3 linked regions of the Homo sapiens genome follow. The protein of the gene in region 1 interacts with the protein of each later gene in a biochemical or structural test. Each region holds a gene or a part of one and is shown on either strand. Other genes may lie near its edges.

The links.
Region 2: the proteins of RC3H1 (region 1) and UBE2G1 form a complex in vitro, tested with the Homo sapiens proteins (one study listed by BioGRID).
Region 3: the proteins of RC3H1 (region 1) and UBE2V1 form a complex in vitro, tested with the Homo sapiens proteins (one study listed by BioGRID).

Annotation. Positions count from the first base shown.
Region 1 is NC_000001.11:174,019,358-174,026,551, reverse strand, and holds the start of RC3H1 (roquin-1), read left to right. Parts: upstream 1-4,194; 5' UTR 4,195-4,456; intron 4,457-7,194. UniProt on the Homo sapiens protein: Post-transcriptional repressor of mRNAs containing a conserved stem loop motif, called constitutive decay element (CDE), which is often located in the 3'-UTR, as in HMGXB3, ICOS, IER3, NFKBID, NFKBIZ, PPP1R10, TNF, TNFRSF4 and in many more mRNAs.
Region 2 is NC_000017.11:4,363,591-4,371,315, reverse strand, and holds the start of UBE2G1 (ubiquitin-conjugating enzyme E2 G1), read left to right. Parts: upstream 1-4,640; 5' UTR 4,641-4,999; coding exon 5,000-5,045; intron 5,046-7,725. UniProt on the Homo sapiens protein: Accepts ubiquitin from the E1 complex and catalyzes its covalent attachment to other proteins. In vitro catalyzes 'Lys-48'-, as well as 'Lys-63'-linked polyubiquitination. May be involved in degradation of muscle-specific proteins.
Region 3 is NC_000020.11:50,110,120-50,117,863, reverse strand, and holds the start of UBE2V1 (ubiquitin-conjugating enzyme E2 variant 1), read left to right. Parts: upstream 1-4,713; 5' UTR 4,714-4,735; coding exon 4,736-4,757; intron 4,758-6,301; exon of another isoform or gene 6,302-6,575; intron 6,576-7,744. UniProt on the Homo sapiens protein: Has no ubiquitin ligase activity on its own. The UBE2V1-UBE2N heterodimer catalyzes the synthesis of non-canonical poly-ubiquitin chains that are linked through Lys-63.

The sequences.
Region 1 (7,194 bases):
CTGATATTTTATATGAAATGACTCATTTGATTTTCATAGTGTATCAGTAGTGGAAGCCAGGGCAGAGTCTAAATTTATGGGTATTGCACATCAGAATTATTAACAAAATATGAGATAAAACAATTTGTTTAAGTTGTCTTGAAGCTACAAAATAGTGATTTTTTTTTTTTTTTTTTTTTTTTTTGTGAGACAGGCTCCCACTCCGTAGCCCAGGCTGGAGCGCAGTGGCATGATTTCCATTTGCTATAACCTCTGCTTCCCAGGCTCAATTGATTTTTCCACCTCAACCTTCTGAGTAGCTGAGTAGCTGGGACTACAGGCATGAGCCACCAATACCCAGGTAATTTTTGTACTTTTTGTAGAGATGGGGTTTTGCCGTGTTGCTCAGGCTGGTCTGGAACAACTGAGCTCAAAGCGATCCGCCCACCTCAGCCTCCCAAAGTGCTGAGATTACAGGTGTGAGCAAAATAGTGATTTCTGAGCACAAATGGCTATGAAACATATAAGCTGTTTATCTTAAGTAATATACTCTTAATTAACATATAATCTAAGCTCAAGACACTTCTCAAACACTATTTCAGTGTATTAATATGAGTTTCAGTGGATTAAAACAAATTTTAAGAGTTCTGAAGTTTAAATCTATATAATTTAAATTTCAACATAGTGTCTCATTAATCTTTTTTTTTTTGAGACAGAGTCTTGCTCTGTCACCCAGGCTGGAGTGCAGTGGCGTGATCTCGGCTCACTGCAACCTCCGTCTCCCGGGTTCAAGCAATTCTCCTGCCTCAGCCTCCTGAGTAGCTGAGATTACAGGCATGTACCACCATATCCAGCCAATTTTTGTATTTTTAGTAGAGATGGGGCTTTGCCATGTTGGCCAGGCTGGGCTCGAACTCCTGGCCTCAGGTGATCCGCCTGCCTCGGCCTCCCAAAGTTCTGGGATTACAGATGTGAGCCACCTTGCCTGGCGTCATTAATCTTTTATAAAAATTTTTTTTTAATTAAATGGAGACAAGGTCTTCTATGTTGGCCAGGTGGTCTTGAACTCTTGGCCTCAAGCAATCCTCCTGCCTCAGCCTCCTAAAATGCTAGGATTACAGGCATGAGCTGCCATGCTCAGCCTCATTTAATCTTATTTGTATTAATTCACAACAAATCTCAATACTCTAACAAGAGTAAAAACATTTTAAATAAAATTTTTAAAAAAAGCTTATTTCCCTAGCTAAATTTTCAAATAATTGTTAATTTAGGAATAAAACCCAGAATATCTTTTTTCCCCCTTGCTGAATATTCATATTATCTTTATTTTAAATAGACTCAATTTCAAGAGATAAATTATCCTCTGTATCTTTTTTTTTTCTTTTTTTCTTTTTTGAGATGGAGTCTTGCTCTGTCGCCAGGCTGGAGTGCAGTGGCGTGATCTCGGCTCACTGTAACCTCCACCTACCAGGTTCAAGCGATTCTCCTGTCTCAGCCTCCCAAGTAGCTGGGATTACAAGCGTGCACCACCATGCCCAGCTAATTTTTGGTGTTTTTTTTGAGACGGAGTTTCATTCTTGTTGCCCAGGCTGGAGTGCAATGGCACGATCTCGGCTCACTGCAACCTCCGCCTCCCAGGTTCAAAGGATTCTCCTGCCTCAGCCTCCCTAGTAGATGGGATTACAGGTGCCTGCCACCACGCCCAGCTAATTTTTTTGTATTTTTAGTAGAGACGGGGTTTCACCATGTTGGCCAAGCTGGTCTTGAACTCCTGACCTTAGGAGAGCCACCCTCCTCAGCCTCCCAAAGTGCTGGGATTACAGGCGTGGGCCACAATGCTCTGCCAAGACCGAGTCTTGCTGTCATCCAGGCTGGAGTGCAGTGGTACAATCTTGGCTCACTGCAGCCTCTGCCTCTCAGGTTCAAGTGATTCTCCTGCCTCTGTCTCCTGAGTAGCTGGGACTATAGGCGCGCGCCACCACGCCGGGCTTTTTGTATTTTTGGTAGAGACGGGGTTTCACCATGTTGGCCAGAATAGTCTGCATCTCCTGACCTCGTGATCTGCCTGCCTCGGCCTCCCAAAGTGCTGGGATTACAAGCGTGAGCCACCGCTCCCGGCCTTATCCCCTGTATCTTACACTTCTAGTCTGACTGGGGAGTTGAAAACATATGACTTCTCACAGATTAGTTTTTTATTTTTTATTGTAAGCATAAGTGTTTTCTTCAAAGCTGCTCTTCTTTTTCTGTCAAATGCATCTTTATATCACTAAAATGAATTTGGGTTTGGGGAAGCGCCGCCATTTTTAACTTTTTTTTTTTTTTTTTTTTTTTTTTTGAGACAGAGTTTAGCTCTTTTTGCCCAGACTGGAGTGCAATGGCGTGATCTCGGCTCACTACAACCTCCACCTCCCAGGTTCAAGTGATTCTCCTGCCTCAGCCTCCCGAGTAGCTAGGACTATAGGTGCACGCCACCACACCTGGCTAATTTTTGTATTTTTAGTAGAGATGGGGTTTCTCCACGTTGGTCAGGCTCCGGACCTCAGGTGATCCGCCCCCCTCAGCCTCCTAAAATGTTGGGATTACAGGCGTGAGCCACTGCATCTATCTGTCCTTTAACGTATTTTTAATTGAAATATTGACGAGATAAAAATAAACAACGTAAAAATCATACTGCTTAAGGGAACCTTTAAGGAGCCTTACCAACTGTGGTATAACTATTAATAGTTCAAAGAAATTACATTATCTAGGTTACTTGCAATGGAAGTTGAGTTACTCGCTTCACCTAAACAAGGAAGTTGGCATGTTTGCCTAGCAACAGTCGCTAAAACCTTCTGTTGTGGAAGGTTCCCTAGGAGTGAGAAGAAGGGAGGAGGAGGAAAAGCAGGAGGAGCAGATTAATCTGTTTTTCCTAGCAGGGTACAGAGGCCTGGTCTGAGAAGGGAAAGGCTTTAAGAGATCCCTTTAGATTGGCACATGCTAACCTAAATCCCCCTGTGGTAGCTAGAAATTCACTCTCTGTAGGACTGGGGTTACTATTTAGTAGGCTGAAAAGACGATTACAGATTAAACCCAGTTCAGAGGCAGCAAATTCCAATCAGTGGAAAGACAACAATAGGTCTTCTAAACAGAAGCTGAGATCTCAGTAGCAGGAGGGTGCTAACAACTAAAAAGAATTCTTCTCTGCCAAGAGTTTAGGAAGGTGTGTGATATTTCTTAAAAATAATACAAAAACACTATCTGTGATAGCGATTCCAATGTATCAAGTTAAAGGCAGAAGTGCTTCTCTTGGGGTACTGTGATGTAAACAGTGAAGAAAGGACAGAAAAACATAATCTCTGCTCTCTTGGTCAAATCCTGAAGCAAAAAAGGTGATAGCGCCGAGTAGAGGTATTAAATGGTTGTTTATTTGGGGACTCTCTCTCTCCTCTATTCTAGATGATTTATTTTGAAATTAGTACTGTATGGTGTTACAATAATCCCATTTCTTCCCCTTCTCAAAAGCGAGGGTTTGGCTAAAATGAATTGTCTGAAGGGACCTCCCATTCCCCAAAACCAAAACGGCACCTTTTCCACAAGGGACAAGAAACTTTTAAAGAGTCGCAAGGTTAGATTTCAGGAGCCCTTCTATGGGCCATATCTTTTCCTGTCGTCCCCAAATAGCTCTTATTGTTCACACAGCCCAGGAGAGACGTTTTGGAGTAGCGTGTCCGGGCCTTTTGGGCTGTTTCACAGCCTTAGGAGGCTGAACTCCCAGAGGGGTGACGAGGACAAAGCTGATGAGATCCAGAACCTGGATAATATGGAAGAAGAAAAATGGGGTGGGGGACAAGACGTGAAAAAGAAACAAGAGTTGGGGGACAACGGCTGAGAAAGCCGAAAGAGTAGACGTAGTGTGGGGTTCGATGGAAACGAAAGAAATTCCCCCAATTTACTCTCGCCATCTGGCCACTGGCCCGCTGAGCCCAAAGGCGCCGGTGCGGGAGGGCAGACCGGACCGAGGGACCGGTTCATCTGCTCAGGGCGTGTGAGACTTTCGGTCGCGGCGGAGAGCGTCGCCGGTCTCCCTCCGGGCGTTGGTGGCCGGTGACTCAGAGCTTTGCTCCCGCGCCCGCCCCTCCCCTCCGCCCGCCCCGCCTCCTGAGGGAGGATCCTCGCCCTCGTCTCCGCCCCAGTCTCCGGGGCGGGCCGGAGCCTGAGGAAGAGGAAGGGGACGAGGACAACGAGCGACTGGGCGGCGGAGGACGAGGAGGAGGAAGAGGAGGCCGAGCAACAAGATGGCCCCTGCTGCAGGAGCAGCCTCAGCAGCAGCAGGTGGGAGGCCGGAGGCGGTGCTGGCGGTGGCGGCGGCAGCCGTGGCCCGGCGGCCTGGGACAGAATCAGAGTCAACGGTGGCCTCGGCGGCGGCGGCGGCTGCCGCGGCGGTGGCGACGGCCGCGGGGACTCGGAGCTGAGAGGAGCTGCTGCTCGGACCAGCGCGGTGAGCGAGCGGCGGGCGGCGACTTGGGGAGCGGGGCTGCCGCGGCCGGGGCCTCAGTCGGGAACAATAGGCAGCTGTGGTCGGGAAGGGTTTGTCCTCGCCCGCCCTCTGCTCCTCCGCGGCAGCGGCAGCCCGGCCGGCCCCAGGCTCCTCAGGGCCCCCGCCGGCTGTTCTGGGGCTTGTCAGTGGCCGGCGTCCTTTAGGCCTCAGGCCTCTGCATGCCGCCTGTAGGGCCTGTCGGGGTAGGTAGGCCGAGAGGAGGACGAAGGGAGGCTCGGACGAGAGGGAGGGGGCGAAAGGGCTACCTGGCTCCTGTGGTACTCCCAGGGCCTGGGCCAGGCGGGGAATGCGCACGGGAACTGCTTTTTGGACCCCTAGTCTGTGGGGGTGGGGGAGGGCGAAGGCGTCTGTAAACAGGCGCCGCCTCGGCCTCCCAGCACCTCAGGGCTGCTTCCTCCCCCAGCCCCTGAAGCGCTCCCCTTCTTTGGCCAAGTGGATTTCACGGTGTCTGTTTCCCTGAAGTCCCTGGAGATCTAGCCTGGTAGTCTTCTCCCTGCTGGCGATGGGAAAATTGTGTGTGTGCAGGTGTCTTTAAAAAAAAAAAACAAAAAACTTAAATGCAACAAAAACATATAAAATGTGGTTATCGGTAAAGGATGGAGTGGTAAGGGATGCGCCTCTCTAAACATCTCTAAGTATCAGTTCTATAAACATCAGTTATGCCCGCATCCCAGGTGAGAGTGGATTGAAACAAGGGCTCTTTTGGAACAGTAATAACACAACTCTTGACATACCAGAATAGCCTATGAAACTGGAAACAAACACTGGCAACGCGGAGACAAACTGTAATGTTTAAAGAGGACTTTTATTCCAGCTAGGCGTTTTGAATTACTAACATGCAGTATAAGAAGCAACATTAACTAGCATAAAGTGGACCTCAGGAAGCACTTCGAAAGGAGACAGGTGGTTCATCTCCGGCCATAGAGCTTCTTGTGCCTTGTCTCGTGTTTCAGTAATTTTTCCTGAAATTGTTCAAGACCAGTCTTTTCTCTGAGTTTGAAATTTGATTTCGTTTTTGTTTTGTTTTGCGACGGAGTCTTGCTCTGTCACCCAGGCTGGATTGCAGTGGCACAATCTCGGCTCACTACAGCCTCCACCTCCCGGATTCAAGCGATTCTCCTGCCTCACCATCCGGAGTAGCTGGGATTACAGGCGCCCGCCACCATGCCCGGCTGATTTTTGTATTTTTAGTAGAGACGGGGTTTCACCATGTTGGCCAGGCTGGTCTGGAACTCCTGACCTCAAGTCATCTGCCCTCCTCCGCCTCCCAAAGTGCTTGGATTACAGGCGTGAGCCACCTCGCTCAGCCTTAAACTTAATTTTTCAAGGCTTCTACCACATTTTCTTACAAGTGAGGGAAAAGGTAGATTTATTTCTAAAGTACTTTCTACCTAGGTATGCAGAAATTTATATTAAAATCGCTTGGATACATCCAAGGAGATTGCTTTTCACTTGTTAACATTCAACTGCAAGGCCTAAGGGTTATAGGTTGTGTTCTTTTCAGCACTGACCTGTGCTGAAAAGATGCCAGTTAATATCTTTCACCTCTTCTAAGGGTAAATTTCTAAGTAGAATTGGTCCAAGTCTGTTCTAATTAAAAACATTATAAGCAGCACTAGTCTAGTTCTTAGTTCTTCCACAACAATTGACACTGAATAGATTAGCAATTGAATAAACATAAAGGTTGAATTTTCTTGTTTAGGATTTGAAGTATAGTGAATGAATATCAATACTGACCTTCATTTTATGCTTAGCATAAATAATGTTGGAGATGTTTTGATTTTTTGAATGATGGAGAAATAACAACTTTCTATGGCTCCTGATGTTGTGACTTTTTTGCAGATATTTCAGAAAGGACACCGTTTTTCAGGTGCTCAAATCTGTGATTTTTTTTTTTTTTCTGTGCTAATTTTGTTAGGTCAGCACAGATTCCAAGTAAAGTCTGTGTTATAATGATACTTAAATTTATGTATGGCCCTAAACCTATTAGAACAATTGTAGTAATTTATAGGTTGTAAGTTTTAAGTGGTTCATGTGCTGTGTTATGAAAACAATCTCACCGTGTTATGTCAAGGGCAGATTTACCTCATATTTAATATCATTTTCCTGAAAATAAATATTTTTAAGTGGTAAGGTTTTGTATTTCAGATTGGTTATTGACCCAGCAATTTATGGGCTTAGTCTGGGTCCGTATTTCTGTTCAATAGGAAAAAAATTTAGGGAATTGTTTTTATTTATTTTGTGTCAAAACAGTTTTAAGTTTTGACACAAACTCAACTGTCCCTTCTTCAGTATCAATACTTATTACTTAAGTTCACATTTTCTCAGGTAATAAAAATTTACTTCTAAGAAGTTTTGGAACCAGAGCTTAAGAATTAGATTTATATTTTCTTGGTAATATTAAAAGTTAATATATGCTTGATTTATTTGAAGAAATAAAAAAGGGTAATTTGTACACAACGCCTTTCAGAACATATTTGTTGAATGAATAAAAATATTTAAGCTTCCTCATTATGCTGCAGTATTAGTTCTGTTGTCCTCATTTTTTCATATGAAGAATGTGAAGCTAAGAGTAGCTATGTAACCAGCAAAAAGATCACATAATTAATAGGTAAAAGAGCTTACTCAGACTCAGATCTTGTGACACAAATTAGATTCTTTGCCACTACCACATGTGT
Region 2 (7,725 bases), on another chromosome or scaffold:
GCCACCGCACCCGGACAGTTTTTAAATTTTCTGTAGAGATGCGGCCTCACCTTGTTGCTTAGGTTGGTCTCGAAATCTTGGGCTCAAGAGATCTGACTGCCTCGACCTCCCTAAGTGTTGGTACTACAGTCGTGAGCTACCAGGCCTGAACAAATGTTGACCTTAATAGTTGTTTACTTCTTTTTTTTTTTGAGATGGAGTCTCACTCTGATCTCAGCTCACTGCAAGCTCTGCCTCCCGGGTTCAAGTGATTCTTGTGCCTCAGCCTCCCGAGTAGCTGGAATTAAAGGCATGTGCCACCATGCTCGGCTGATTTTTATATTTTTAGTAGAGACAGGGTTTCTCCATGTTGGCCAGGTTGGTCTCCAACTCCTGACCTCAGGTGATCCACTCACCTCGGCCTTCCAAATTGCTGGGATTATAGGCGTGAGCCACCACGCCTGGCTGTTGTTTACTTTTTGACTATTCTGTCCCATTAGATGTTACTGTCATGAGGTAGGAACCTGGTCAGTGTAGTTTACACCTAGACCTTGAGTCCTAGGATTGTGTCTAGCTCATAGCAGTTGCTCAGTAAATGTTTGTTAAATAAAGCAATAGTTAGACAGTTGGGTGTGCAAGCGTTCATTCAGGCTTGAGGATCAGCCAGGCACTAAAATGGTGAGAGAAGGAGACAAACAGCCAAGTTTGTTGAGGGCGTATGAAGAGAAGGGTTGTAGTAATGGACTACTCTCTAAGCTCAGAAGAGAAGGAAGAGGAGAACAGGAAGGAAATGACAGATAGTAAAAAAGTGGTAAACAGGGCTGGACGCGGTGGCTCATACCTCTAATCCCAGCACTTTGGGAGGCCGAGGTGGGCAGATCACGAGGTCAGGAGATTGAGACCATCCTTGCTAACATGGTGAAACCCCATCTCTACCAATAATACAAAAAAAAAGAGCCAGGCATGGTGGCACGCGCCTATAGTCCCAGCTACTCGGGAGGCTGAGGCAGGAGAATCACTTGAACCCGGGAGGCGGAGGCTGCAGTGAGCCGAGATCGCACCACTGCACTCCAGCCTGGTTGACAGAGCGAGACTCTGTTTTAAAAAGAAAAGAAAAAAAAAAGTGGTACACAGAATGGGGTCTTGTTGGTGTGGAAGAGCTGTGTGGCGTGAACGCTAAAGCCAGTAAGCTGGAAGGATAAGGAATGGTGGTCAGGGTGCGTGGCTTGAAACCAAGTACTGGGGTGTGGTGGAATTTTGGGTGGCGAGACTGTCCCACGGGAACACGGAGAGGCCAGCTGGTGGGAAGGGAAGGAGAGGAAGTCAAGTGGTGAGAGGCAGGGGTACCGGACGGGTCATTCATGTGGGTAATTAGGTCCCCAAGGTGGAGGGCTGGAGTAGAATGAAGAGAAGGGCTCTGAGGCAGGAGGAAAAGTCCATGATGAATGGGTCTGCAGGTCACAGCACCAAAGGGGAGTGGCAAGTGCTGCAGCTGGATGGCATTAACCTCAAAAGCAAGAGGGCCCAGGTGCAGTGGCTCACGCGTGTAATCCCAGCACTCTGGGAGGCCAAGGCGGGAGGATCGCTTGAGACCAGTTTGAGACCAGCCTAACCAACAAAGCGAGACCCACTCCTTGGACTTGGTCTGTCATACCAATGGCACCCAGTCACCCGGGTCAGGAGAGTCACCTGTGGTGCTCCCTGCTCTTTCCTATATCCCATAGATCACCAAGGCCTACATATTCTTTGTTTTTTCGTTTTTTGTTTTTTTTGAGACGGAGTTTCACTCTTGTTGCCCAGGCTGGAGTGCAATGGCACAATCTCAGCTCACAGCAACCTCCCCTTCCCGGATTCAAGCAATTCTCCTGCTTCGGCCTCCCAAGTAGCTGGGATTACAGGCATGCACCATCACGCCCGGCTAATTTCGCCTTTTTTTTTTTTTTTTTTTTTGAGACAGAGTCTTGCTCTGTCGCCCAGGCTGGAGTGCAGTGGTGCGATCTCGGCTCACTGCAACCTCTGCCTTCTGGGTTCAAGCGATTCTCTTGCCTCAGCCTCCCAAGCAGCTGGGACTACTATTAGCTGGCCACCACGCCCAGCTAATTTTTGTATTTTTAGTAGAGACGGGGTTTCACTATGTTGGTGAGGCTGGTCTTGACCTCCTGACCTCGTGATCCACCTGCCTTGGCCTCCCAAAGTGCTGGGATTATAGGAGTGAACCACTGCCCTAGGCCCTAATTTTGTATTTTTAATAGAGACGGGGTTTCTCCATGTTGGTCAGGCTGGCCTCGAACTCCTGACCTCAGGTGATCTGCCCGCCTCGGCCTCCCAAAGTGCGGGGATTACAGACGTGAGCCACCTCGCCTGGCCACCAAGGCCTAAATATTTTATGGACACTCCTTAATCCAAGTCTTAGTTACTGCCACAATCTCCATAAGGGTCTCCAGGCTTTAAAAATTTTTATTAAAATTTTAAAATGTTTATTAAAAAAATATTTTGGGCTGGGCATAGTGGCTCATGCCTGCAATTCCATCACTTTAGGAGGCTGAGGCGGGTGGATCACTTGAGCCCAGGAGTTCAAGACCAGCCTGGCCAACATGGTGAAACTCTGTCTCTACCGAAAATACAAAAATTCTCCAGCCATGGTGGCACAGGCCTGTAATCCCTGCCACTCAGGAGGCTGAGGCACGAGAATCACTTGAACCAGGGAGGCAGAGGTGCAGTGACCTGAGATTGTGCCACTGTACTCCAGCCTGGGCGACAGAGGGAGACTGTTTCAAAACAAAACAAAACACACTTTTTTGTAGCGATAGGGTCTTGCTCTGTCACCCAGGCTAGTCTCTAGCTCCTGGCCTCAAGTGATCCTCCTGCGTGGAGTTTCCAAAGAGCTGGGATTACAGATGAGAGCCACCACAGCCTGCAGGGCACTGGTCTTGACCCTCCCTCCCTCATCAATTCTCTGCAGCCACAGCAAAACATTCAAAATGCAAGTCTGCTATTTTTCTACTCCTAGTTAAAACTTTTCAGGGGCCTCCCACTGTTTAAGGATTAGGTTCAATTTCTAAACCTTTATCCAGCCCTGATCTTTCACCAGATTTGGAAATTATTACAAAAAATAAATCTTTTTTTTTTTTTTTTTTACAAAAAATAAATCTTAAGAAACTAGGAATAGGCCGGGCACAGTGGCCCTTGCCTATAATCCTAGCATTTTGGGAGGCTGAGGCAGGCGGATTGCCTGAGTTCAGGAGTTCGAGACCAGCCTGGGCAACATGGTAAAACCCCATCTCTACTAAAATACGAAAGAAAATTAGCCTGGCCTGGAGGCGTGCGCCTGTAGTCCCAGCTACTCAGGAGTCTGAGGCAGGAGAATTGCTTTAACTCGGGAACCTGAGAGGCAGAGGTTGCAGTGGGCCAAGATCACGCCACTGCACTCCAGCCTGGGCGACAGAACAAGGCTGTCTCAAAAAATAAATAAATAAATAAATAAAATAAAAAAGAAAGAAACTAGGAATAGAAGTAAATTTCCTTGATTTGGTAAAGTGAAATATCAAAATGGTCCCTTTGGTCTATTTGATAGGGGGCAGTGGTTCACACTTGTAATGCTAACACTTTGGGAGGCCGAGTTGGAAGGACTGCTTGAACCCAGGAGTTTGAGACCAGCCTGGGCAACACAGAGAGACCTCTGGCCCCCCCCTCCTTTTTTTTTTTTTTTGTGAGACGGAGTCTCTCTCTGTCGGCCATGCTGGAGTGCAGTGGCACCATCTCGGCTCACTGCAATCTCTGCCTCCTAGGTTCAAGCAATTCTCCTTTCTCAGCCTCCCTGGTAGCTGGGAGTACAGGCGCCTGCCACCAGGCTGGGCTAATTTTTGTATTTTTAGTAGAGACCAGGTTTCACCATGTTGGCCAGGATGGTCTCGAACTCGTGACCTCAGGTGATCTGCCCACCTCGGCCTCTCAAAGTGCTGGGATTACAAGCATGAGCCACCGCGCCCCGTCAAACCCCCCGATCTCTATAAAGCAAATAAAAAAATAGCAGGGCATGGTGGTGTGTACCTGTAATCCCAGATACTAAGGAGACTCAGATGGGAGGATCCCTTAAGCCCAGGAGTTCCAAGCTGCAGTGAGCTATGATCACTGCACTCCAGCCTGGGCGACAGAGAGAATTGCCGTCCATAAATGATAATAATAACAGGGCCGGTCTCGGTGGCTCAATAATAATAGGGCCGGACGCGGTGGCTTTTTTTGTGCACTCTTCATGTAAAGTGAGTTATCATCATATATTGCCTCTATTTTGATGTTTGGTTAAAATGGGGCACACCAGTACTAACTTCGGCTTTCTAACAATTCCTACTTCGCACACCATGTGGCAGTGTTAGATGGCTTTTGGGCGCTCGCCAAGGACTAGACATCTACCACTTCTTCTGGCCTCTTCGCTCCTATATCCACTGCTTCAATCCAGAGGCTGTATTTGACCCTCTGCGACCTCTTTGTCATGGCGTCCGCGGGGCGTCTACCAGCGGAGGCTTGGGCTGGCAGCCGGGCGTCGACCTTCCCAAAATGGCGGCGGACGGGACAACTGCGCTCAAGGGGCGGGGTTCCGCCGCCGGGGGCGGGGCGGGAGGCCGAGGGGTCGGGCTAGCGGGCGGGACGCTTCCCAAGTCGGCAGTCTCAGCGCGCCTGCGCCGAGCGGCCCTGCGCGCAGTGAGGCAGTGGCGGGGGAAGGCACCGGTGGGGCCGACGGGCGGGTTGAAGGAGGGAAGCGGGCGAGCGAAGTCCCAGTGCGCGCCGCGGCAGCCCGGGCACCCTCCCCTTCCGGGCGTGAGTCGCTGTGAAAAGAGCTGAAGCGAGCGGACTCGCACCGGCAGCGAGGCGCCGCTCCCGCCGCCTCAGCCCGGCCTTCCTCGGCTCCGGCGCTCCGGTCGCGGGGCCCGGGTTCCTCGGCACACCCCGCTCCAGCCGCCCCCAGAGCCTGTCCCCAGCCCTTCGGAAGCCCCGGCGCCAGCCCGGGCCCTCGGCAGGGAGGATGACGGAGCTGCAGTCGGCACTGCTACTGCGAAGACAGCTGGCAGGTGAGCAGGCGGGCGGCGGGGCGCCGGGCCCGGCCGCGATCGCGGACAGCCGCAGCCCAGTCCCTCTTCTCCTCCCGGGCCAGCGGCCGTACTGCCGAAGGGGCCCGGGCCTGCGAGGGTGGGGACCTCGAGGCTCCGGTCCCGGCCGGGCCCAGCCGTTCTCGCCCGGCTCTTGGAGGGCACTGGGGGCGGGGACGCGACCCAGCTCCGGCCCAGGGACTGGGCCTGGCGCCCGGGGGGTCGGAGAGGAGGAGGTCCCCTCCCCCACCGTTCTGTAGGACGTTGCGGGGGAGGGGCTGTGTGCGGGTCCCCAGGCCGGGGCCGCCAGCTTGGAGGGGCGGGTCCCGGGTTCAGGTGCTGCCGGGGCCGCCGGACCTTCGGGGCCGGCTGGAGCGTCCGGACCCAGTGCGGCTGCGAGTCCCCGGCTCGGTGTCTGAGGGCGGGCGGAAGGGACCGGCCCTGGCGGGATAGGTGAGGCGCACAAAACTTCTCCCCGGGCGGCGCTGGGTCCGCGGAGTTGGGGCCGACAACAAAAGCGCTGGCCTCGGCGGCCTCCACGCGGGCGCGAGGGTGCCGGAGACCCTGGCGGAGTGCGGATCGCCGCCTCGCCTGCCTCCGCCTGGCACGGGCTCCGGCTGCGCCGCCCGGCTGGGGGAGGGTAGGAGCGGGCCGCGGGGAGAGCCGCTCGCTGGCCGGCTCCGGGCTTTGTGCTCGCCGCGATTCCGGCTGCTGCGCAGGCCTGCAAACCCCGGAGCTGCGCCCGCAGGCTCTGGCCCGGGGCGGCGGCCGGGTCGGCCTCCCCGAGGAGCCTGCGGCCCCCCTCCCCCATTGTCCCGGCCTCCGGCCGTTTGCGGCTTCCAGGTTGACTTTTTAGGGGGTTGGCTCCTACTCTGCTAGGACTGTGTGCGCGGAGCATGCGCAGTGGAGACGTCCGTGTGCGGAGTGGAAGGGGGGAGGCGGGTTGGTGGCTTCACAATGCAGCCCCACGTGCTGCCAGATTTAAAGAGAAATGAACCAGCACTTACCCCTGCTGTACAACACCCGGCGTGTGTCATTCTCAGTTCAAGCGATCTTCCCCCTACCCACTCTAAAACCAGTAGCCTCTAGCCCTCAGCAGAAGCCAAAGACTGGAGTGATGAAATCTGTTTTTGAAATACATTTACTAAGAGTTTGAGGTGTTCGTTAAATCACCTTTATGGCTTCTTAAGGAAAAGGTTGTCAGGGGTTCTTACAGATTGTATAATTGGGTTTATTATTAGACCATGAGCAAGCAGGTTTGGACAAGTATTAAAGTTCTAGATGCTCAGGGGGAGTTAGCTTGCAGTAAATGGAGAAGTTCTAATGATACTACAGGATACTCATAAAAATTATGTGCTGGAAAAGCACTGAGGCCGGGCGCGCTGGCTCACGCCTGTAATCCCAGCACTTCGGGAGGCCGAGGCTGGCGGATCACCTTAGGACAGGAGTTCAGGGCCAGCCTGGCCAAAGTGGTGAAACCCCCGTCACTACTAAAAATACAAAAAATTATTCGGGCGTGGCGGAGGGCGCCTGTAATCCCAGCTACTCAGGAGGCTGAGGCGGGAGAATTGCTTGAACGCGGGAGGCATCGTTGCAGTGAGCTGAGATCGCGCCATTGCTTTCCAGCCTGGGCAACAGAGCGAGACTCTGTTCAAAAAAAAGAAGGGCCGGGCGCGGTGGCTCACACCTGTAATCCCAGCACTTTGGGAGGCCGAGGCGGGCGGATCACGAGGTCAGGAGATCGAGACCATCCTGGCTAACACGGGGAAACCCTTTCTCTACTAAAAATCCAAAAATTAGCCGGGCGTGGTGGCGGGCGCCTGTAGTCCCAGCTAATCGGGAGGCTGAGGCAGGAGAATGGCGTGAACCCGGGAGGCGGATGTGCAGTGAGCCGAGATGGCGCCACTGCACTCCAGCCTGGGCGACAGAGCGAGACTGTGTCTCAAAAAAAAAAAAAAAGAACTTTATTGCATTTTTTTTTTTTTTTTTGAGGCAGAGTCTCACTCTATTGCCCAGGCTGGAGTGGAGTTGCGCGATCTCGGCTCACTGCAACCTCTGCCTCCTGGGTTCAAGTGATTCTCCTGCCTCAGCCTCCCGAGTAGCTGGGATTACAGGCGCGCGGCACCAAGCTTGGCTAATTTTTTGTATTTTTAGTAGAGATGGGATTTTACCGTGCTGGCTAGGCTGGTCTTGAACTCCTGACCTGGTGATCCGCCTGCCTGGGCCTCCCAAAGTATTGGGATTACAGGCGTGAGCCACCGTGCCCGTCTGCATCTTTTTTTTTTTTTTTTTTTTTTTTTTTGAGACGGAGTCTTACTCTGTTGCCCAGCTGGAGTGCAGTGGCGCAATCTCGGCTCACTGCAAGCTCCGCCTCCCGGGTTCACGCCATTCCCCTGCCTGAGCTTCCCGAGTAGCTGGGACTACAGGCGCCCGCCACCACGCCCGGCTAATTTTTTGTATTTTCAGTAGAGACGGGGTTTCACTGTGTTAGCCAGGATGGTCTTGATCTCCTGACCTCGTGATCCGCCCGTCTCAGCCTCCCAAAGTGCTGGGATTACAGACGTGAGCCACCGGGCCCGGCCTCTCTGAATTCTTACATAATGGAAAAGATAAACATTTAAAAGGTGTGAAAGAAGTTATGCATTACTAAGAAAGTAAAATA
Region 3 (7,744 bases), on another chromosome or scaffold:
TGTTTGTTTGTTTGTTTGTTTGTTTGTTTGTTTTTAGATGGAGTTTCGCTTTGTTGCCCAACCTGGAGTGCAATGCTGCAGCAACCTCTGCCTCCCAGGTTCAAGTGATTCTCCTGCCTCAGCCTCCCGGGTAGCTGGGATTACAGGCATGAGCCACCATGCTCGGCTAATTTTTCTATTTTCAGTAGAGATGGGGTTTCACCATGTTGGCCAGGCTGGTCTCGAATTCCTGACCTCAGGTGATCCACCGGCCTTGGCCTCCCTAAGTGCTGGGATTACAGGTGTGAGCCACCATGCCCGGCCTCATCACACACTCTGTTAACCACACATCCCTTCTCCTCTCTGTCTTCTGCAAGTCCACAGTCCTTCCTGTCGACAGTTTGTCAGCTTTACTTTCTGCAGCTTATGCTACAAAAACTGTAGCACGAGGTTGGGGGGGTTCCTTAACTATAAATAGGAAATTGAAGGTTGTGGATAACATTATATAATTTTTGTTTTTTCACCTTTTGAATATACTTTTTCAAACTACTCATGCCTTTTACATCCCAGAGATTCCAAACCAGCCCTAGTGTTTTCCCACTTGAAAAGAGAGTTCACGAATGGACATTGTGGATCTGTCAGGTCTACATGCCTCTCAACCGAACCACTGCGTCAGCTTCCTGTATCTATTAGGTATGCTTTTTGGTGGTAGGTAACAAAAACCTACCTTTAAGAACAACTTAAGCAACAGGCACATTATCTCATGTCTTCAGATGTCTGCAGTTGGGCAGCCCTGCAATTCCTTCAGCAGCTCAGCCACATCACCCAGGATTCTAATTCTAACCATTACAACCTCATATTGTAGGAAGGAGGAAAGGGGACAAAAATAGGCTTTTTCTTCAGCTTTTTTGTTTGAGACAGTCTCGCTCTGTCGCTCAGACTGGAGTGCAATGGCACGATCTTGGCTCACTGCAACCTCTGCCTCCCAGGTTCAAGCGATTCTCGTGCCTCAGCCTCCCGGGTAGCTGGTATTACAGGCCTGAGCCACCAAGCTCGGCTAATTTTTGTATTTTCAGTAGAGACGGGGTTTTGCCATTGTGGCCAGGGTGGTCTCGAAATCTTGACCTCAGGTGATCCGCCCGCCTCGGCCTCCCAAAGTGTTGGGATTACAGGTGTGAACCAGGGCGCCCAACCTTCTCTTCAGCTTTTATGAGGGGAGGGAAAGTTTCCAAACACCCACCTTGCCATGTGGGGCCATGGCGACTGGAATGGCGGTAAACATGCCCAATACACCTTCTCTCTGGGTTCCCTGCTACCAATATTGCTGCTGCCCAATTGGGTGTCCTCGCCCTGTCTCCTCATGGCAGCACGATGCACTTTGTAAAAAGGCAAACCTGCCCACATTTAGCTCAAAACCTCCCAGGCTCCACCTCCCTCATCACGGGAGAGCCAGCGGGTGACACAGGGTAAAGAGAACTGGATTCCAAAACTGATTTTACTCCTTCCTTGTTGTGTGACCTTGGAAAAGCCATCTAACTCCTCTAAGTCTCAGTTTTCTCATCTCACAAATGGAAATGGTAACAGCTACTTTGCAAGGTTCATTGAGGATTAGGTAATAATAGCAGCTAATACTTATATTGCACTTAGTGCCAAGCCCTCTTCTAAATTCTCTAGTTCTATTAACCATTTTAATCTTCCCCAAAATCCGATAAAACAAGACTCTTATCCCATCAGCTGAGTTTATCAGCTCAAGCGCAGAGCGGTGATCAGGCGCAGGCGCCGGAAGGAATCCTGCTCTGGGGACCGGCTGTGACGTCCAGGAATGGGGCAGAAACTCTTCGAGGGAGCGTGTGCGCGGGACGTACTACAACTCCCATCAGGCACTGCGCCAACGCTAGACTACAACAACCAGCATGCCTCGGGCTGTCCCGCCTAACCTCTTCCTGCGATGAGCTCGGCACGGGAATTATTATTGTCAATTTTACTTGCAAGAAGTTTCCTACAAGAGCCAAGGAATCCATGCGAGTAAACATTTACGGGCACCATAGATAAAAGGCTTGTGTTTTAATCCTCATCCTCTCCACCTGTTAGCTCTGAGTCTCAGTTTTCTCATCTCTAAAAATGGGGATATTCACAGGAGTTGCTGCATCGAGTTGTGAGGATTAAAAGTTGGATGTAACGGCTTGGTAATTATGAGCTCTTCTAGTGTCCCTTCCTCTTCCCTGTGCCCAAGGGGTTTTAGGAAAGCATTTTATCTCCACAGCAATCCTATGAGGTTGATACTACTATCCTCATAGAAGGGGAAACTGATGCCAGGAGAGGTTCAAGCGTCTTACCTGAAGTCACAAAGCAAACTGAGTGATGAAGGAAGACTTGAACCTAGAAAATTTCACTGCAAAGGTGAGTCCACCTTAGGAACCCAAATGCTTCCACTTGCTACTGATGCTTTACAGTGACCCCAAGTCCAGGGCAAGTATTTTCTGTGCTCCCCAAAGCAAACTTGTATCACGTGATACACGAAAAGTCAAGTTGCTTCACCTGTAGCCAGTGCTGGCACTTTGAGAGCTAATTATAGCTGAATTTGATGTGGTTGGAGGAATCGAGGAAGGCTTCCCTGAGGGGATGGTGCTGGATCTGAGAACTGAAGAGTGGGAACAGCACAGGCAAAGCCCCTGAAGTGGGAGAGGGCATGTGTTCCAGGGGGCTTGCAAAGGGCCAGTGTCGCCGCAGAGGTACAGAAAGTCTCAGAGGCGCAGGCTGTGCCAAGGCTATGGTGAGGCAAGTGGGGTACCTAGGGTGCAGATTTTTTTTTTTTTTTTGAGACTGAATCTCTCTCTGTTGCCCAGGCTGGAATGCAATGGTGCAATCTCAGCTCACTGCAACCTCTGCCTCCCGGGTTCGCTCGATTTTCCTGCCTCAGCCTCCCGAGTAGCTGGGATTACAGGTGTGTGCTACCACGCCCCGCTAATTTTTGTATTTTTAGTAGAGACGAGGTTTCACCATGTTGACCAGGCTGGTCTGGAACTCCTGACCTCAGGTGATCTGCCCACCTCGGCCTCCCAAAGTGCTGGGATTACAGGTGTGAGCCACCATGCCCTGCCCTAGGGTGCAGATTTTAAGGAGTCACTCACCTGCAGCGCTGTGCAAGTGCGGAGTCAGGACCTGAGTGAAAGCCCCGTTAAATCTGACCACCCCATCCTCGTCCCTGCCCTGGGTGCAGAGCCTGGTGCACAGGGTGTCCAGGCATCCTGCTTTGCCCTGGAGAGCCCTGGTTTCCACTTGTCCTGGTGAGATTATAATAAGTCCCCTTTTAATCTGATGTGTGTCCTCATTAGGTGATAATTCTATGGTCGCTCAACTTGTAAAGTTTGTATTTTATCCAGAGGGAATGGGGAGCCACTGAAGGCTTTAGCTGGAGGGTGTTTTGAGCAGATGTTGGTCTATATGGAGAATGGGCCATAGGGGAGAGAATGGAAGCTGCTGGGGTCTTCCAAGTGGGAGATAAAGGCAGCTTGCCCTGAGTGGAGAAGTGAACGGAGTGGAGAGATGCAGAGTAGGCACTGCTATCAGACAAAGGTGATGAATTGGATGTGCTGGGTGAGGGCTTCCAGCTTCCTTGTCCCTCTATGTTTAGAGTCCTGGTCCTTCTGCCAGTATTTTGCTCTGTGACCTTAAGCCAGTCCCTTCACCTCTCTCAGCCTCAGTGTCTACATCCATATAAGGGCTTCTCAGACAATTTATAATAAAGGAGGAGTACCTTCTTGGGTTTATTTATTTGCAAAAATATTTCCCAAGGGCCTTTGCACAAGCTGTTCCCTCTACCTCCTCATTGTTACGGTCTCTGCTGAAATATGACCACCTTAGGAGGCCCTTCCTGACCATCCTCTGCTGCTCTTGTCTTGGTTTATCTCTACCCTATCAGAATTATAGTTTCCTGTTTATTTACTTGCTGTCTACGACTAGAATGTAAGTCCCTGAAAGCAGGGATTTGCTTCTTCAGAGATGTCTATCCATCCCCAGCGCCTAGCACAGTGTCTGGTACATAGTAGGTGCTTAATGTTTGTTTGTTTGGTTGAATGAATGAATGAACGAATGAATGAATGAATGAATGAATGAATTGGGTAGATGGTTAGCAAATGCTTTCCCTGCCACCTTAATGCCCCTAAATCATTTAGCTGCACCCACTCCAAGCCTTCTCTGGCCGGGGAGCATCAATCCTAGGAGCCAGATCATCTGACCTGGAGGGTGATGATTCAAAAAATTTGAACCTGGAGGTTAAAATTCTGCCTGTCTCTGCCACTTAACAGCTGAGTTTAGATAAATCGCTTGATCTCTCTCGGCTGCATTTTTCACATTAATTCTGACCTTGCGGAGATGTGGTGAGGATCTAGATAGGAACTAGACAGGAAAAAGCCCCAAGCGAATTCGGCGCTTTTGTTTGAAGCTATATTTTCTTTTTCTTTCACAATCGCGCCTTCCCAAGCCTAGTCACCCCTGCCCTTCTCACTAAGCACATCACAACCTCCCTCGCACCCGATGTGTGGGGACTTGCAGGTTGCTGGGCCCTCGAGCACGCAGATATTTCCTTTCTCTAAAAGGGAAGGAAAAGAGCCTTCCAGGCCACGGGTCGTGCAGGTCTCCGGGGCGGGCGTCAGCGGCGGCGTATGTGCGTGCGCGCGCGCCTGCGCATCAGGGCCGGGGGACGGGTAAGGGGGGGGTGAAGAAGGGGCCGGCCTTCAAGCAAGAGCGACGCAAGATGGCAGCCACCACGGGCTCGGGTGAGCGGGGGCGCCGGGCCCGGCCGGCCGAGGGGGCATGGGCTTGGGCCGGGGGCCGGGGACCCTCAAAGCCTCCTGCAGCGGAGCCAGGGTCCCCGCGCCGCCTCTGTCTGCTGGGCTCCGCGGCAGCCACCGGCGCGGCCTGACCGGGGGAGGAGGAGCAGGCGGTGGCCGGAAGCACGGGCGGGGGGCTGAGGGGCCTGTGGGCGGCGCGGCGAGGCCCTGAGGCTCCCCCGGGAGGCGTGAGGGCCCTCTGTGCTGTCTGGGGGAGCCGGAGTGGGCGAGGAGCGAGCTCCGAGGCACTCCTGAGGATACCGGGGCTGGCGACTCTTAAGGGGCGATCTAGAGGTCCCCTAGAGGAGGCGCCCCACAGCGGATGGAAGTCCCATACTGGGTGCCAGGGGTGCGGCTGAGAGGGGCCTTGGGATGTCTGGAGGGGACATCAGAGAAGCCCTTCAGGCTGGATGGAAGAAACGGGATCCTGAGGGGGTGACTTGAGAGGATCCCCTATCGGTTGAGGGAACGGCTCCGGCGTTAGTTTTAGAGATGGGGTTAGCTGAGGAAATAGCTATGTTGACTAGAAAGGAGGAGCCTTGGAGCAGCTGCTTTTGGGGAGAATGAAGGGGGTCTCCGCATGATAAGTGAGAGGAGGGAAAAGGATTCAGATGCCAGAGGGACCTAATAGCGGTGATAGTGAAATGACCCCATCATTACCAGTCTCCTGTTCGAGGATACAGATGGATTGCTTCAAGTTAGGTTTCAGGGGACAAGGTCCGAGTGGGGCAGTTGGTGGAAGCCTCTGATATTGGATGAGGGAGAACAGATGAATTGGGAGCCCCGAGGATGTCTCTTTGGGAGTGGGGATTCAACTGAGGGAAGCCCCTGAAATGAGGGAGTGGAAAAGGTCGGGTTCCGGAGATGTTTCCTGTAAAGGAGAAAAGTCTCCTCTTTTTGAATTGAGTGAGGGAAGCATATCCTAGAAGTGTCTCTTCTGTGGAGACGCTCACTCTCATCGACTCCTTTAATAATTGGGACAGATATGTGGGTTCAGCTCAGAAGTTCCCCACTGGCTGATGGGAGTAGGGAGGTGAATAGATGAAATGGGAACTCTTGGGTGAGGCTGCACCCTCAGGTGCCTGGCAGTGAAGTTGGCCAAGGAGGTTCTCTCAGATGGGGTGAAAATGGGTTACCTCTCTGATGGAGGAAGCAAACAGGGCCACAGTGTTCCCCACTGTGGGGCTGCAGGGACACCAGCCTGAGTACAGCAATCATTGGCATATTTAAGGCCACAGCAGCGGCAGTGTTGGGAAGGAATTGGTGATCCATGGGAAATAGGGTGAGGGGAATTCTTTATAAATGTTGCTACTCTGCGGTCTCAAGGAGCCATACTTGCCTGATGGTTGGGGTGGGAATAAAAGAAATTGAATGTGGGGGATCTGACTGAAGTGACCCACCACAAGCTGCTGCCTTTTGAGTTTAAAACAGTGGGGTCTTCTTGCAGAATAGCGGAGACCATGAATCCTTTTACTCGATTTTGGTTTCAGCTGGAACAGTGCTGAGTCAATTCATTTACCATGACGCTGCCCCAGGCACTCCCAGAAGAGAGATTCTGAGTCAGGCCAGACTGCTGGGTAAAACTTCTCACCAGAATAACACTCCTACCGGGTCGTAATAAACGAAGGGGCCCAGTGTGCTGGTGGTAGCCAGCAATAAGGTGCTGTTGCAGCTCAGCCCTGCTTGCAGTCACTCGGTTGGCTACCTACAATCTGGGTTAACAGCTGCCCGGTTCTAACTTCTCCAGACCCTGACAGTTAAAAAGTGAGTGCTTCATAAATGGCTATGGTGATCAGATAAAATGTCAGCTGCTGTCTAGTGGAATACAAGAGCACTTGGCATGGTTTAGATAACATAGGACAGGCTTTGAGGTGCCCTAAAATGGACTTCCCAAAATTCTTTTGTCTGTTTATTCAACAGATATTTACTGAGGGCCTATTATGTCCCATCGTGGATAGCAAACAAAATGGACATAGTCTGTATCCTTCGGGAGCTTCCATTCAAGTCAGGGAGAGAAGGCTGTTAAGGAGTAAATAAGACAATTTCAGATAGCAGTAAGTGCTATGGAGGAAATTGTGTGATGTGATAGTGTCTGGAGAGGTGGTCAGGAAAGTGACATTTCAGCTGAGTCAAATAATGGAAAGAGCTAACCCTACAGTGTCACAGGCAGGAGAGAGAGTGGGCTGTTAGTGCAAAGGCCCTGTGGTGGGACTCTGCTTGGCATGTTGAAATAACAGGATAAAAGGCCTTCATGTGCAAGCAAGGCTTGTTAAGGAGATGAGTTGGAGAGACATGGCTTTGGATTTGAGATGGTATGAGGGGAAGCCATCAAACAAGTGTCTGGTATGAAGTAGGCATTCAGTAAATATTTGTTGAATGAATGAATAAGAGTCTTAAAAAGAGGAGTATGATAAGATCTGACCTTCGTCCCTAGGCAGTGAAAAGAGTGCAGGGTGCTAAGAGTAAAGCAGACCTTACTTGGGGTAAACTAAAATGAGTGTACAGGCCTCTCTGCTTTCTAACCCTGAGAAGTCTTCCAGGTGTGGTCAGGGCCCAGAGGCCTTCCTTAGTCAGGTTTAGAGTGAGGCTCTTGATTAATCTGTGCCTCCGGTTGCCAGGAAACAGCTGTGAAGCCTTTGAGTTCCTGTAAGGGCTGAACTTAGTTTTTTATGGTCACTGCTTTCAGCATTTGGCTACACCACCTTCCCACTTCCTTTGGTTCTGCAATGTGTGATATCTACATATGTCTTAGAGGGTGGAACTGTGAAAAGCCCACCACAGATCCTCAGAATCCCCATGTTATGACGGGTGACTTCCTCCTGCCTTGGCCAGGATTGCAGCACATCAAATAGTGGCCCTTGGTTGCCAGGCCCTTCCTCTCACTCAGCAGCCCACGAGCTTCCCTGACATTTAATCAGAAAATGAGTGCCAGA